Homo sapiens: one gene and its partner. The protein of the gene in region 1 purifies or fractionates together with the protein of each later gene. This does not show direct contact. Each region holds a gene or a part of one and is shown on either strand. Other genes may lie near its edges.

The links. Proteins that work in one complex are often made in the same cells at the same time.
Region 2: the proteins of STK32A (region 1) and CST7 purify together in Homo sapiens (affinity purification with mass spectrometry; one large-scale study listed by BioGRID and IntAct). This does not show direct contact.

Annotation. Positions count from the first base shown.
Region 1 is NC_000005.10:147,273,026-147,276,525, reverse strand, and holds part of STK32A (serine/threonine-protein kinase 32A), read right to left. Parts: intron 563-3,500; exon of another isoform or gene 541-562; coding exon of another isoform or gene 495-540; intron 1-494.
Region 2 is NC_000020.11:24,952,269-24,955,768, reverse strand, and holds part of CST7 (cystatin-F precursor), read right to left. Parts: intron 1-3,500. UniProt on the Homo sapiens protein: Inhibits papain and cathepsin L but with affinities lower than other cystatins. May play a role in immune regulation through inhibition of a unique target in the hematopoietic system.

The sequences.
Region 1 (3,500 bases):
ACAATTACTTCTTATAAATATGGATAGTGTGAACATTTGGATTCTCTAAGGCAGTGTTTTTGAGCTGTGAGTCAAAACCCATTAATGAGTTATGAAATAAATGTAGCTAAAATAAGAAGTACTAAAAATTTAATTAAATAGAATAGAAAATACCAGAAATGCCTCAAATGTAGTAAGCATAGTACTGCCTCTGAAACTGTTGTTTCCATTTCATATACTTGAGTAGACATATATATACAATCCTGGCTTCATTTACTATGTCATGATATGTTTTTTGGCTTATGTTTTACCTTGGGTTGTGGTCAGAATAATTTTAAAAACACTTCAGTAAGTTTTCTCTTGAGTTTCATACTGAAATAACCAAAGCAATGATTTTCTTACACCCATTACATGAATCTGAGTTGTGTATTATTTACCACAAGAGTGTTAAAAAAAGCTGACCAGGATTTATTTGCAAATTCAAGATTTTATCTTGAGCAAATCCAATAACTCACAGTGATTTCTCCACTGCCAGTCTAGCCTAGAATGCCATGATGACATTTTGAATCTCCAAGGATGCAGCAGGTACCTAGAAAGCATGAAGTTCCATGTTGATATTAATCCATTTTGTGAACCACCTCCTTTCATATACCATTTTAACCTTACTGAAAATGATACAGGATTACATGTCAGGATCCTGGTAAATTTATACTAGCAAAACTGCTTTAACTAAATGTGACCTCCCAAAGGTCACTTCTCAGAAAAGGGACAAGCCTAAAGCCTTAGAGCAATTCATCTCATTTATGCCTTTATTAAAGAAAAACACAGCCTCTAGTCTAGTGCCGTACTGTCTGAAGTCACTTCCTTGTATAACAGTACAATCTAATGGGAAAGCCAATGATAGATTAAAAGTGACTATAAGAGGCTGGATGCAGTCACTCACACCTGTAATCCCAGCACTTTGGGAGGCCGAGGCAGGAGCATTGCTTGAGCCCAGGAGTTCAAGACTAGCTTGGGTAATGTAGTGAGGCCCCATCTCTACAAAAAATTAAAAATTTGCTAGGCATGGTGGTGCACATCTGTAGTCCCAGCTACTCAGAAATTGAGGCAGGGGGAACTTGAACCTAAGAGGTTGAGGCTGCAGTTATCTGTGATTGCACCACTGCACACCAGCCTGGGCAACAGGGTGAGATCCTTTCTCAAAAAAAAAAAAGTGACTGGAAGAGGTTCTCTTATTCAATCCTGACAGTCCCTTTTTAAATGTTCAACAAAAGAATCACTAGTTAGCAGGAAGACTAACTTGAAAATGCAACTAAACCTCATAAATTCAAACAAAATCAGAAAGAGAGAGAGAGAGAGAGATGAAGTCAGAATTGTGGATTATTTTGTCAACAGAAATCTAACAGTACTATAAACATACAGGATTTGCCTAAGGGGAATGTGGAATAGTGTACTCACTATGTTCTTAAACCCTTGATCAATAGGAACAGTAAATGCCAAACTGGACTTGCAATCTGTTTTTGTGTAGTCTATGAGCTAAGAATGGTTTTTGAATTTGTATAGGATTATTTTTGAAAACCAATGGATATGCAATAGAGAATGTATATAAACCCACAATATTTACTGGATGGCTCTTTACAGAAAAGTTTGATGACCACTGAGATTAAGAGCACAGTCCCTGAAGACAGACAACCTGAATTCAAATCTCAGTTCCAACAATAAATAGCTGTGTAATCTTGGAAATTTACGTCTATGCTTCCCTTTCTGCATCTATAAAATGAGGATGAAAATAATATATACTTCATGAGGTTTATAAGAAGATGAAATGGGTCATGTGCATAGAATATTGCCTGGAACTAACTGCTTTTACTAGTAGTGCTATTACTTCTTAAAGAGTATCATAGCTCCCAGCAAATACCACCTTAAGCTGCCATGGTAGCACCTGGGTATTATCAGGCAATATGGAGGTAAATGGAATCAGCATCATTTCAATACATTTGGGGTTTTCATAGTCTCTGGTGTGGTGTCCTTGCATTGTTTTCTCTAACCTCTAAAGCAAAGTTAACCTTAGTGGTGTTTACTTCTTGAGTCTTTTACTTGGATCATGTTCCAAAACTTTCATTCTGGTTCATGGAGCTCTGAGTGTTAAGAAGACAGAAAGACCGTCTGGAGACACTGGGTCTTTGTGGGGCCTTGAAGGTAGTGGTTTAGTGTGGGCAAAGGCAGAGCCTGGTTCTCACTCATGCTGACAGGGCTGGGCTAGGGTATGTGGCCTGCAAGAAAACAGGCAAAGGAGATGTAACTCTGAGGCCTTCCTTAAGTGCCTCAGTCCTGCTTCGCACAGGTCTTTTCATCCCAGCCTTCACAGCCATTGTATCTGTACAGTATCCTAAAAGTTGCCTGGAGGTATACCACGTTAACACACAAAGCTGAATGCACCTTAATGTTGTGATAATTACTTGGAATATTGAAAAAGTAAATATCTAAAAGTACTTATTTCAGAGTTTTTCTTTTGGGTGAGTACACATTCCTTCACTAATCAACCAGGCACAGACATTCTATATGTATGAGGGATCTGTTTATGAGGGTGGTCAGTACATGTTTCATTTTTATGTCACTTTCTATCTTCACATCCTTATAGTGTATACAGTTGAGGGTACTCAGGCTCAGAGAGATGAAATAATTTGTTATGGTTATAACCAGTATAGTGACATATTAATGTTGAGGTTAGATTTTAAAAACAGAAAGTAAGGCAAAGACTTGTTTAGTCAAAACTACACATAAAAATCCTTTAGAAATGTACCTTTTTTAAAACCAAGAAAGTTTTTCAAAAAGTCCAACAGACAATTCTATCTCCTTTGTGTGGGTACCCAATAAGGCTCATTAACTGCATCTAGGAACTATTATTCGGGAAAAAATAGTTTAAACACTAAAATCACACTCTGCTCATTAGCAAGTTTATATTCATTATAGTCACATGGAAAGTTAAGACCAACTATGTGGATAACTGGTTGAATGTTTTTGCAAAGCCATACCCAGTATTTGAGTGGAGGAGTGGGTAAAATCAACTCACCTGAGTCTGCCTAGTTGCACTCAGGTAAATTCAATATCCACCTTTCTCATTCTGGACCCAGGCTCTTAACCACTATTTTTATAGCAGTCATCTTAATGTTATTCTTATTGTATAACATACCTACCCATCCCAAAGGTAGAATCAGAGGAAACAAGGTGGGATTTCTTCCTGTCTCTTTTTAGAATTATATGTTGAATCAAGGTTTCCAAGTCTTTCCCTTAGCATAAACCATGCTGATTCTGAAACCCAGTGATGATACTTTTTATTTCCTTTGTTTTATTTCACTTACCATCTTCTCTGTCTCAACATGCTGTGCAATAAGCAATGTTAAAGGAAAGAAAAAAGGAAACCCTTTTTAGAGTCTGTTATAACACCCTGATGCTTGGAATTTCAGAGAAGACCCTTGTAGAAGGTAAGGCAGGAATGCCCTTTTTTTCTATTTTTGAGG
Region 2 (3,500 bases), on another chromosome or scaffold:
CTGCTGCAGCCTTTGCTTAAGAAGACTTTAGGTGGCTCACGTCTGTAATCCCAGCACTTTGGGAGGCCGAGGCGGGCAGATCACGAGGTCAGGAGATCGAGGCCATCCTGGCAAACACGGTGAAACCTGGTCTCTACTAAAAATACAAAAAATTAGCTGGACATGGTGGCGGGCACCTGTAGTCCCAGGTACTCGGGAGGATGAGGCAGGAGAATGGCGTGAACCCGGGAGGCGGAGCTTGCAGTGAGCCGAGATCGCGCCACTGCACTCCAGCCTGGGCAACAGAGCGAGACTCCGTCTCAGAAAAAAAAAAAAAAAAAAAGACTTTAGGCCTCTGAAGATGGAATAGAAACCGCTCTGTTCCTGAGCACCAGGGGCTGAGCTTGGCCATCTAGGGGAGGTCCTGGAACCTGCATTTCCCCAGGCTCTCAGGTGACTCTGACACTGGTGTTGGCAGTGAGGGGTCCCTTGGGACCTGCAGTGTTACCATCAGGAAGGAGGGGTCCCCAGAGCCAAAGGCAGCTCCTTCTGGTCCTTGTGCTTGTTGATGACAGGAAGTTGAATGTGGCTTTTAGTTAAAACAAAAAACTGTTCTGGAAACCAGCTTGGTTTCAGCTCATCACTGTCATCTGAACAGCAGAGAAAGAGACACGTGTATGGAAGGGGTAGCATGTGTTCAGTGTATTTTTGCTGTCAGATTAGCGTTTTTTTTTGTTGTTGTTGTTGTTGTTTTGCTTTCTTTCCTCACATTACATTAATATGGCTGTCCATTGTTTTCTTTGTAAAAACTACATTTTATGGCTTTTTCTGACTATAAACTTACCTATTTTTGGTAGAAATTTGAAAAATACAGAGGAGCATAACAAAAAATAATTATTTTTAATATCTTAAAGCTAACCACTATTAACTTTTTTAAAAAATAAAATGTATTTACTTTTGCTTGAGATTAACAGAATTTTAAAAATGAAGTGAAACTCAGTTTACGCTGAACTTCAAATAAATTTCCCTTCCAAGCTCATGACGTTAGTTCCTAAAAGATTGTGGTAAAGTTACAAAAAGGTTATGAAAAATACTGAAATTGGTATTTTTTATTTAACTACATGTTTCCTAAAATGTAGGCTTCAAGTCAATAAACCTTTCACTGTCTTACAGTTGTCTAAACAGATATTAAAAGCTCAGTTTTTAATTTAAAATTGTTTAAAAGTCAAACCTATTTTTAGGATGATTTGTTTAGAGAAATTAACAAGGAAATGTTGATCATTAAGAATTAACACCCCAAAGAGGCCACTCATCTTCAGGGAAGAAAACAAGCAGTCCAGCAGGTGGTGAGCGAATGCAGCTCTTTGAGAGCCTCCGATGGAGTCAAGGAACTGTGAAGAGGACCCCCCAGGGAGGGGGCTCTGGGTTTGCTCCGTGCAACTGAAGGCAGGGAGCGGGAGAATGGGTGCTCTCCTCCTCTGCCTGCTCTGTCTGGAGGGCCCTGCGATGCTGTTTCTTCTCATGTGTGCCCATTCTGCAGGCGAGGAGACCAAGAGCTTGGAGTGCAGGGTGGGGGGCTAAACCCAGGTGTGACTAATTCGAAACACCACTCTCACTTTTTCCTCATTCAAGACGGACTGTTTGGCAGGTGCTAGGGGAGATGCAGGGTGGACTCTAAGACAGGCCCCGCCCACAGTGGTGGGGAGGCAGAGCAGGCCTGGGGCACAGGAGAGGACACCAACCTGAGGGTAAAATGGGTGAGCAGAGGGGCAGGGGATGGGGGAGCAGCTGCAAGGTGGCTGAACTGGCCTAGGGGAGGAGGGAGCTACGTGCTGGGAAGAGTTGGGGAGACCCCGCTGGAGGCTGCTGCTGGGTGCAGAGGGTGATGGTGGTGATGGCCGCGATGACGTCAACGGAAAGAACCCACGGACCGTCAGGCTTGTGAGAAGAAACAAAAGGCACATAAAATCCGTCTGTATAGAAACAATGCCTGGGGCAGGCCAGGCCTGCTCGAGGGGAATGGGGGACCTGCCATGTGCGAGGCTCGCACCAGGAGCCTGCCGGGGCAGCCTGACCCCAGCCCACCACTGCTTCTAATGCGGGGTGGGAGGGGAGGTGGGCCATGCCTGAGACAGGTAGGGAGCTTCCAGACGTAGAAGCTGGAGGTGAGGCAGGGGCGGGCAGGGCCTGATGATACCAGGTGCTGAGCAGGCCCCAGGACACATGGTCACAGGAAGGCAAATGAAACTGTCCCCTAAGGTTGACAAGAATTGCATGCCAGGTTCTGGACAGAAAGATACTCATAATTAAGCTTGAATCAGGCTGCTGCTGGCCCAAGATGTTTTTCAGATCCCAATTCCAGCAACCAGTTTGGAAACCCCCCACGGAGGAACAGGATCATCACGAAAATACAGCTTCTTCCTCTCCCTGTGCTGTGACATCACGCTGCCCCTTCCAGCTATCGAGCTCCAGAACCCTTAAAAACCCGGGCCCCAGCCTCCTCGGGGAGATGGATTTGAGTTTCCTCCATCTCCTTGTCTGGTGATCCTGCGATCACCCTGCTTTTCTGCTGCAGCCCCGTGTTTCTGAGCATCTACTGGCTGTGTGCATGGGGCAAAGTCCTGTCCGGGTGCCCGAGGACCAGTGTGCAATGGGGTGCAGATGTGAAGCTGCCAGGCCAGGGGAGTTGCCAGGGCCTCTGCCCAAGGCAGCAGGGAGCTGCAGTTTCTGACAGCTGCTGGGCATGCCCTGGGCAGGGTACGTTCCTGTCCTCAGAGCATAGGCCCAGTGGCAGAGCTGGCACTAAGCCAACCTGAGGAGAGAAAACATGGGCAGGGATCGCTGTGGTGGCACCAGGCAGACCCTTCCCACCTGCCTTTAGTAGGAAAATGGGTGGGCACAGCGGGGGCTGGCATTGCCCACCTCCTCCCTCTTTCAGGAGTGTTCTAGGTGTGGCCGGGAGGTTGGGAAGCCCCTGCTTGTGAAACCATCCCTGAGATGGGGACCTGGGTGCCGAGAGCTGGACGCAGATGGTCCCTGCTGGTGTCCCTCCCTGTGTCACCTCAGGGGGTGCCCTTTCCATGGGCCAGTACTGAGCTGGGTGGGGAGACCCTTTGAGAGGGGCCCCATCGGCCCCCATCACCCAGAGCATAAGGTCTGCATGGCTGTGCCTGAGCACTGGGGTGTTGGGGGGGTGCAAGTCCAGCTTAGAGGTGCTGGTGTTCACTCTGCCCACCTGGAGACGCTTCACCCCAAGCCCTCTCACATGACACCATCAAAATTCAGAGAGCCTGGGTCCTTGGGGCCACACCTGCCCGCTGTGCTCTTGGGTCTCTGCCTGATGGCTAATGGCGGAGTCTATCTTTTGAGGGCACACACATGCCCCTGGCACAGACAGGACACTGAGCTCTACCAGATCAGTCCCGACCTTAACCCACTGGGACACACCCGGAGTTTGAATTCCAGCTCTGCTTCTCACTGGCTGTATGATCTCAGGCAAGCTGCCTAACCTCTCTGAGCCT